Linked DNA regions of Homo sapiens. The protein of the gene in region 2 purifies or fractionates together with the protein of the main gene of each other region. This does not show direct contact. Each region holds a gene or a part of one and is shown on either strand. Other genes may lie near its edges.

The links.
Region 1: the proteins of OSTC (region 2) and TIA1 purify together in Homo sapiens (affinity purification with mass spectrometry; one large-scale study listed by BioGRID and IntAct). This does not show direct contact.

Annotation. Positions count from the first base shown.
Region 1 is NC_000002.12:70,224,416-70,228,240, forward strand, and holds part of TIA1 (cytotoxic granule associated RNA binding protein TIA1), read right to left. Parts: exon of another isoform or gene 3,408-3,825; coding exon 3,320-3,407; exon of another isoform or gene 979-3,319; coding exon of another isoform or gene 942-978; exon of another isoform or gene 313-941; coding exon of another isoform or gene 215-312; coding exon 139-214; coding exon of another isoform or gene 97-138; exon of another isoform or gene 9-96; intron 1-8. UniProt on the Homo sapiens protein: RNA-binding protein involved in the regulation of alternative pre-RNA splicing and mRNA translation by binding to uridine-rich (U-rich) RNA sequences.
Region 2 is NC_000004.12:108,660,318-108,664,142, reverse strand, and holds part of OSTC (oligosaccharyltransferase complex subunit OSTC), read right to left. Parts: intron 911-3,825; coding exon of another isoform or gene 837-910; intron 1-836. UniProt on the Homo sapiens protein: Subunit of STT3A-containing oligosaccharyl transferase (OST-A) complex that catalyzes the initial transfer of a defined glycan (Glc(3)Man(9)GlcNAc(2) in eukaryotes) from the lipid carrier dolichol-pyrophosphate to an asparagine residue within an Asn-X-Ser/Thr consensus motif in nascent polypeptide chains, the first step in protein N-glycosylation.

The DNA.
Region 1 (3,825 bases), on a different chromosome or scaffold from region 2:
AGAAGAAATCTTCTAGTGAGGGTTTATTTTAATCATCAGTAAAATAAACAGCAGACGAAAAAAAGATTAGTAATTAAAACGGAGTGTTTCCATTCTTTACTCTTTAAGCATTATCCATGCACTTCTCACTGAGCTCACCCATTTGTTGAAAAAGGAGACAAAGCCATATCCCTTAGACTTTCCTGTTGCCATGTCTTTTACCACTCGGGCATCTCTGAAATCAGAAACAATCAGAAGTTTAGGTTTGCAAACTATCCTCTGGATATCAAATAAGAATTTCACACACAACTCATTCTCATGTTTCACCTTCATTAAAGTGAACCTTTAATGCAAATTCACCTTTTATTCTACAAAATTTATCATGTATTAGGAAATGAGGCTTAATTTTATAGACATGCAAATCAATAACTTAAGTATATATGTATATTTATATTGTACAGAAATTGCCTCTCTCTTCAAAAAACTTTTTAAACTTTTAAATATTAAGCATGGTGAAAGCAGCTACTCACATGAACTACTTAACCACTTATAAAGTTCACAGGACATTAGATGAATGGCTTTCTTTAACCATGCAATTTATAACTTATTTGACACTATATTCTACCTAATCATTAAAAAAAAATAGAAAACTGGAAACCAAAAGAATGAAAAAGTTGTATATTCCCTAAACTAATTAAACTATTTAATTTTTTCAGATCAATTTATACCCCCCTTTTTGTCTAAATTTTGAGAACTTGACATTTTCAGAAATGTTAAATCATTGAAGAAAAATACTAGACACACACAAGTTTTAAGCTAGACAAGAAAAGATTTTACACTGAATTTTATAATAGCATTCATATAAAATTGATTGGAACTACAAGATATAAAAGCAAAATTTTAAAAAGTCAGAAAGTAAAAAAGCACGCCAACATTTATCCACTGTGAACCGTAGCTTGTAGTTAGCCAGGGCAATTCTGTCCATTCTTCAGAGACACTCTGCAAAATAACCAGAGCCCTATTATTTGAGATTGAGTAAAAACCCAGCCATGATAGCTAAAACTCCATACCTCAAAAAATTGGACTCAAATTGTGCTTCACAGGCAATCTGCTTTTAAGTTAGTCAGGTATGTCACAATGCTTGCTCTCTCAGGACACATGAACAAAACAGGCACTTTTATAACAAAAACCCAAGTCAGAAAGCCATGCAATGTAATTTTCTATTAAAGTATACATAAGCATATTTTAGATCAATCTGAGTGATTTATTAAGTGTTCAGGGTCAAAATGACAAAGACGTGGTGGTGAAAAGGGAAAATTAATGTAAGTCAATGTTCAATATGCAAAAATACTTAATAAATTATCTGTATGGTACGCATGCATTTAATCTGGTAGCTGACTCTCTTCTACGCTGTAATTTGTTAGTCTACCCTAAACTCAAGGAATAGGAAGAGTTTATAGGCTGTATATAAGGGAAAATACCATATTTTTTATACTACATGCTTTTACAGACCACTGTTTATTACACATCTATAAATCAAGCACTGATATTTGCACTTTTTAGAGAATATCATGAGAACCCTTCAACATACAGTTATCAACTTATCTCCTTTAACAACAACAAAAAATCAGGAAAATATGCTACTGACTGCCAAATGATTCCTTTAAATGCAGGAAAGCTAATTCCTTATATAGCCTAAAACTCAAACATTATACATTATCTCAATTGAAAATCATAAAACTTAAAGGTCTTACCAAGAAAAAAAAAGTATACACCAATAATCATGGGACCATAAGAAAATCTACAGACTAAAAATATGACACAGAAATATATTTAAGAGAAAAAAATATAACCCACGATTTGTAAATCATGAAATTGCTAAAATCTGAAGGTCACTTAACTTAAACTCACCAACTGTTAAACAATCTTTGCCTAATTCCAAACTAAAATTCCCGTGTTTTCAAAAAAACTACCTCAATTAAAATCAAAGCATTTAATAAAATAGCTACTTAATCTGTTCACAATGTTAGAAAATTTTTTCTTCTTAAAGTTTCAGAAAATGTTAGTCTTGAAAAATATTCAACTCATTTATTTCTCTCTGAAAAGATTCTCTGAAGCAGCAGCAAAGATCTAGATCAGGCTTCTTTATCCTTTTATGGTTCTATGACTACTCTGACAATAGGATAAAATTTACAAAGATTTTCCACACCAAAATGAAAACACAAAATTGTGCATAGAGATTTAGAGCCCTTGAGAGGCCAAAGGCTAAGACTGTCTAAGTCCAGATATTCGAAAGCAAGCTAATTATTATTGAAACTCTAAGATATTATTAAGAAGGACAATCAAGAAATGAAAGCTGTACTTATTTTCCTGATCAGGTCTCACAAAGAAAAATGTCATCTGAAAGAAGTCCATTTATAAGCCCTAATTCTGTGACCACCTTTAAAGTTGGTAATTCCTTGGTCACATCCCCTAATCAAGGAACGATAACTCTTCAAACGAAAGCTCCTAAAATTCACCAATACTACTGGCATTTACTTTCCAGTCTCCTCATCTCATCTCTGCTGTTGGTCTGTTCAAACCAAACCACAGCTAGCACTTCCTTTTTACTATTCTTCTAGGTGGAAAAATAACAGAGCAAGCAGAAACCCTGAAGAAGTTTTCTAAGCTAATTACTCTACAGAAAGTACTGTAAACAACTTGTTATTCTTACTCTAATATGGCATGCTTTTCAAAATTTTAAAGTTCTTCTATGATGAATGCTATCTCAAGTAAGGTATTTATTCATAAGGGCCTAAAATGTATGACTAATAACAAGTGCAAGCAAGGCAGTGCTTCATAAAATATTATTAAGGCACTATTATTGTTAGCAGTTTTTTTAAAAGGGTGTAAATATCTAGAAAATAATATTCAATAACTGCTTTTTAAGTTGAATTGTTAAGGTTTCTTTTTGTTAAAATATATTAACACAAAATGCATGGTATCATAGAAGTACCCAACAGATCTAAATTCCTTAGTTACAGCACAATTTTACTAAAGATTGTCACCAAGCTAGCTTGATACCTATATAAGAAAGTAAAACATGTACAATGGCAAATTTGTCTCTTAAGAGCTATGCTAATTGAAAAAGGATTTTAAGATAATTGAAAACCAAAGGTTTATTCATCAATGGGAAAACAATCTTTTGCTGTTAACTTCTTGAATGATCTCTAAACAATGTAATACATTATATTCAAGTTATAAAATTAATGTACAAAATTCACAACAGAATTATTTTCAAGTTATGTCTACATATAATTGTTTCTAATTAAAAGGATTTTATTTATCTTCTGTTACTTACGATATTCTTCCAAATGGTGCAAAAGCAGCTTTTATATCTTCAGTTGTAATTTCTGGGCTGAGATCACCAACAAAGACATGGAAATGATCTTATAAGGGGAAGGAAGGGGAAGTGAAAAGAAAAATAGAACTTTAGAATTTAAAAAGTACTAAAATCTATCCAATAAAGTATTCTTAAAATGATTATGGCTTATGATAAAGTATAAATAAAACACTATCCTATATCTATACAAATCCTACCAATTTTAAACAATGAATCAAGGTAACAATATAGGAAAAATTCTCCTGAAACGACTGTGATACATCTAACTGTAAAGTGACATTTATATTTCTATTTACAGTCAATTATTACACTGGTCTAAGAAAATAAACTAATAACATACAAGTTTCAGTTCTGCAAAAAAATTTAATGACTTAGTTACCATTCTAATAATAATTATTTACTTTTATTCAGTTTACCACTATATTAAGGCTTTACAAATTAAAATAAAATAGTGGTACTGTGAA
Region 2 (3,825 bases):
ACTAAGAAATATTATAATGTTATAACGATACCATGTTAGAAAAAAGAAAAGAAGAACAAATACATTACTATACTTCTTGATAAGAAATAAAAATAAAATTGTTGAAATACACTTACTATAATATATACTCAATCATTTAGCCCCCTCTCTTGACCCAGAAAATTTCATAATCTTATATTCAGGCCTGTGAGAATTTTACATAAGTAAAACCGTAGATAAATACAATAAAAAGTAAATCAAGAACTCAAAAACCAACTAGAGACAGGAGAAGCCACCATGAAGGACCTTCTATTTAATCTTTAAGGCCATTCTTTCAATAATCACTCAGTGCCTCTGTATATTAAGGCAAGCTCTGTGCTAGGTTAGCACTAATAGAAGCTTCTCAAAACACTACCACATTCATTATTGCATTTAACCCTTGCAACAATCTTAAAAAGGTGTGTGAAACAAGGATTAGTCTCATTTTACAGATGAAGAGTGTGACAGCAATTAAGTCGTTTGCTCAAAAATCACAAGGCCAGAAAAGAACAAAACCAGCATTAAAACACAAGTCTCCTCACTCCTGGTCTACTACCCACTCCAATGGTCCTAGAAATGGAAACCTCACTTTCTTCTTTTAGAAACAGTAATGGTTTATTCAGGCTGGGCACCTTGGCTCACGCCTGTAATCCTAGCACTTTGGGAGGCCGTGGCAGGCGGATCACGAGGTTAGGAGATCACTGGCTAACACGGTGAAACCCCATCTCTACTAAAAATACAAAAAATGAGCTGGGCATGGTGGTGGGCGCCTGTAGTCCCAGCTACTAGGGAGGCTGAGGCAGGAGAATGGTATGTACCTGGGAGGCAGAGTTTGTAGTGAGCCGAGATCACGCCACTGCACTCCAGCCTGGGCAACAGAGCGAGACTCCGTCTCAATACGAAACAAAACAAAAACAGTAATGGTTTATTCATTTATTTTTGAAACTGTGGCCATAATCTAACTTGAAACAGAACTTTTAGGACTCTATCTTTAGAATGAAAACACTGACATTGATTAACACTTACATTATGATTGAGAGCACACCTTCTCATTTAATGTTGACAACTGTAACTCCCCAAGGTACATTAATACTTCATTTAACAGGTTTGGAACCTGAGGCCAAGAGAGTTCACAGAACTAATCCAAAGTCTCAGAGCTATTAAGTGGCAGGCCAAAACTGGACTCCAAATTCCTCACCCTCTCTACTACACATTGTCCTCAGCAGCTGTACAAATGTTTTGTTTCTTTAGAATGAATTACGTCCCTTATTTGCTAAAAATGAACCTCGGATATCAGCTTTTTAGTCGCTGAAACAATCCAGCTGCTAGTTTCTCTACAGCCTTAACTCTCTAAAATATAGCTCCAAATCTGGAAGGAAATGAAAGAGATTCTCAAACATCTGAAAGTATGGTTACAAAGCCAAGCCATTAAGCTCTCCTTCAGCCAGAACTGATTTAAAAGGTAATTAATAGCTAGGTTATCTATTCCCTCAAGTCATAGAATAACCAGCAAACTGAAAAGAAGAAGAGGGAAAGGATGAAATTACAATAGGTATATACTGATCACCATGACAAGTGACAAGCCAGTGAAATCAACAAAACTGAAAAGTAGTACTATGCATAACAGAAATGTAAAATGACCTCAGTGGAGAAGGTTAAATTATGTTTAATCTCAGTGTCCAGCAAGTAACAGTTATCAAATAAATATTTGCTACATACAAATATGAGTGTTAACGTGTAATACAACACAACAAACGCTTTAGAAAGAGGGTCTGTCGAAAATGAATACAATGTTTTAGTATTTATGTATTTTCAATTACATGGAATCACATATATGCAGCATATCATTCCCTAAATGATGTTAGTTTAAATATTATTACATTCATATTTTTTATTCCTTTCTCCCTTTAAGAGAACTTGTTTTCTGAACTGATCCCATGATCTCAGGATTTATCCAGAAGATCCTTAGCTTTTCTTCTCAAGCTTAATAAACACTAGGTGAAATTGCTAAAAAGCCATTTTTGCCAGCTGAAATAAGGCAGACCTTTTGTCCTCAATTATCTGATAGTATCTATTTCAAGTAGTTTTATACAGCTTTATAACAGACTTGCCTGAATGTAGGAACCCATCCCTCCATCTCCAATTGAACACCTCACCTGACTTTAGGGCATTACCACGCCACCACAGGCCACCTTTTATTTTTATTTTTTTTAAGATTCTGCTTTTGGCCAGGCATGGTGGCTCACGCCTGTAATCCCAGCACTTTGGGAGGCTGAGGCAGGCAGATCACTTGAGGTCAGGAGTTCGAGACCAGCCTCTGCCAAAATGGCAAAACCTCATCTCTACTAAAAATACAAAAATTAGCCTGGCATGGTGGCACATGCCTGTAATCCCAGCTACTCGGGAGGCTGAGGCAGGAGAATGGCTTGAACCTGGGAGGCGGAGGTAGCAGTGAGCCGAGACCGCGCCATTGCACTCTAGCCTGGGTGATAAAGCAAGACTGTCTCAAAAAAGGAAAAAAGAAAAGAAAAGAAAAAGATTCTGCTTTTAAGTTAAAGCTGCCCTAAGAGTGGAGGCTAAAGACAATCTAATGAAGATTCATTATTTTTTCAGAAGAATCAAGTTCAAACGTGTACCAGTCTTCTACTCAGTAACCGAACATTATTTCCTTTGAGTCTATGTATATTTAAAATGCAGTGAACATACAGACGCATACATACATGATTTCACATACATTATCTCATAAATTATATTAGAATATTTTCATTTTCACAATGAAAATTACTCCTTTGAGACTGTACTAATAAAAATATTAGGGACTACGTTTAATTTTTTCCTTTTAAATGTACTGCTATGTGTGCAAAGCTAATAAACAATCATTCTTTATTCTTTTTTTTTTTTTTTTTTGAGATGGAGTCCCACTCTGTCACCAAGCCTGGAATGCAGTGGCACAATTTCGACTCACTGCAACCTCTGCCTCCTGGGTTCATGCAATTCTCGTGCCTCAGCCTCCCAAATAGCTGGGATTACAGGCGTGCACTACCACGCCCAGCTAATTTTTTTATTTTTTAGTAGAGACTGGTTTTCACCACGTTGACCAGGCTGGTCTTGAACTCCTGACCTCAAGTGATCTGCACACCTCGGCCTCCCAAAATGCTGGGATTACAGGCCTGAGCCACTGTGCCCAGCCAACAGTCATTCATTTTCGACGTTTCTTCAAAACTCAAGACATCAAATAAAACATGTTTTAATTAGTAAAATTATATCAATAGGGGAAACATCAGGTCTTTCAAAAAAGCATAAATCAGAAAACAGAACCAGTAATACTGTTTCAGTGCTACTGTTTTCTCCTTTTCAAAGGCATCTCTTGCTAAAGGTAACATCTTTGTAAAAAAGAATTCCACCCTGGAGGTTATCATGGTGCATCTTATGATACAGCCATCCTTTATCTCAGATGCTAGAAACATAGTTGATTTGGAAAAACCAGTGGCTATTGGTGTTTTTTTGACATCTTTTTTATTGTTGTGGTTAGTCCACTCACTATAATCAAACTGTTAGGTCATCATAGATAATTTGCATGAAAGAAGAAAGATACACCCTTTCCTTGCTGGGATAGTAACTACAACCCTGTTGTGTGTAATACAGGCCAACAGTCCTTGCTCATCATCTCCTCTGGGGCCTGCAAATATTCCAGGAAAGATAGTATCATTACTTCCATTTCTTATATAAAACTGTCCATTGTCTCTCCTCACTCCATACCCAAGGTACCAGGCATTAGGAGCTGCAGATGAGAAATGATATCAGAAA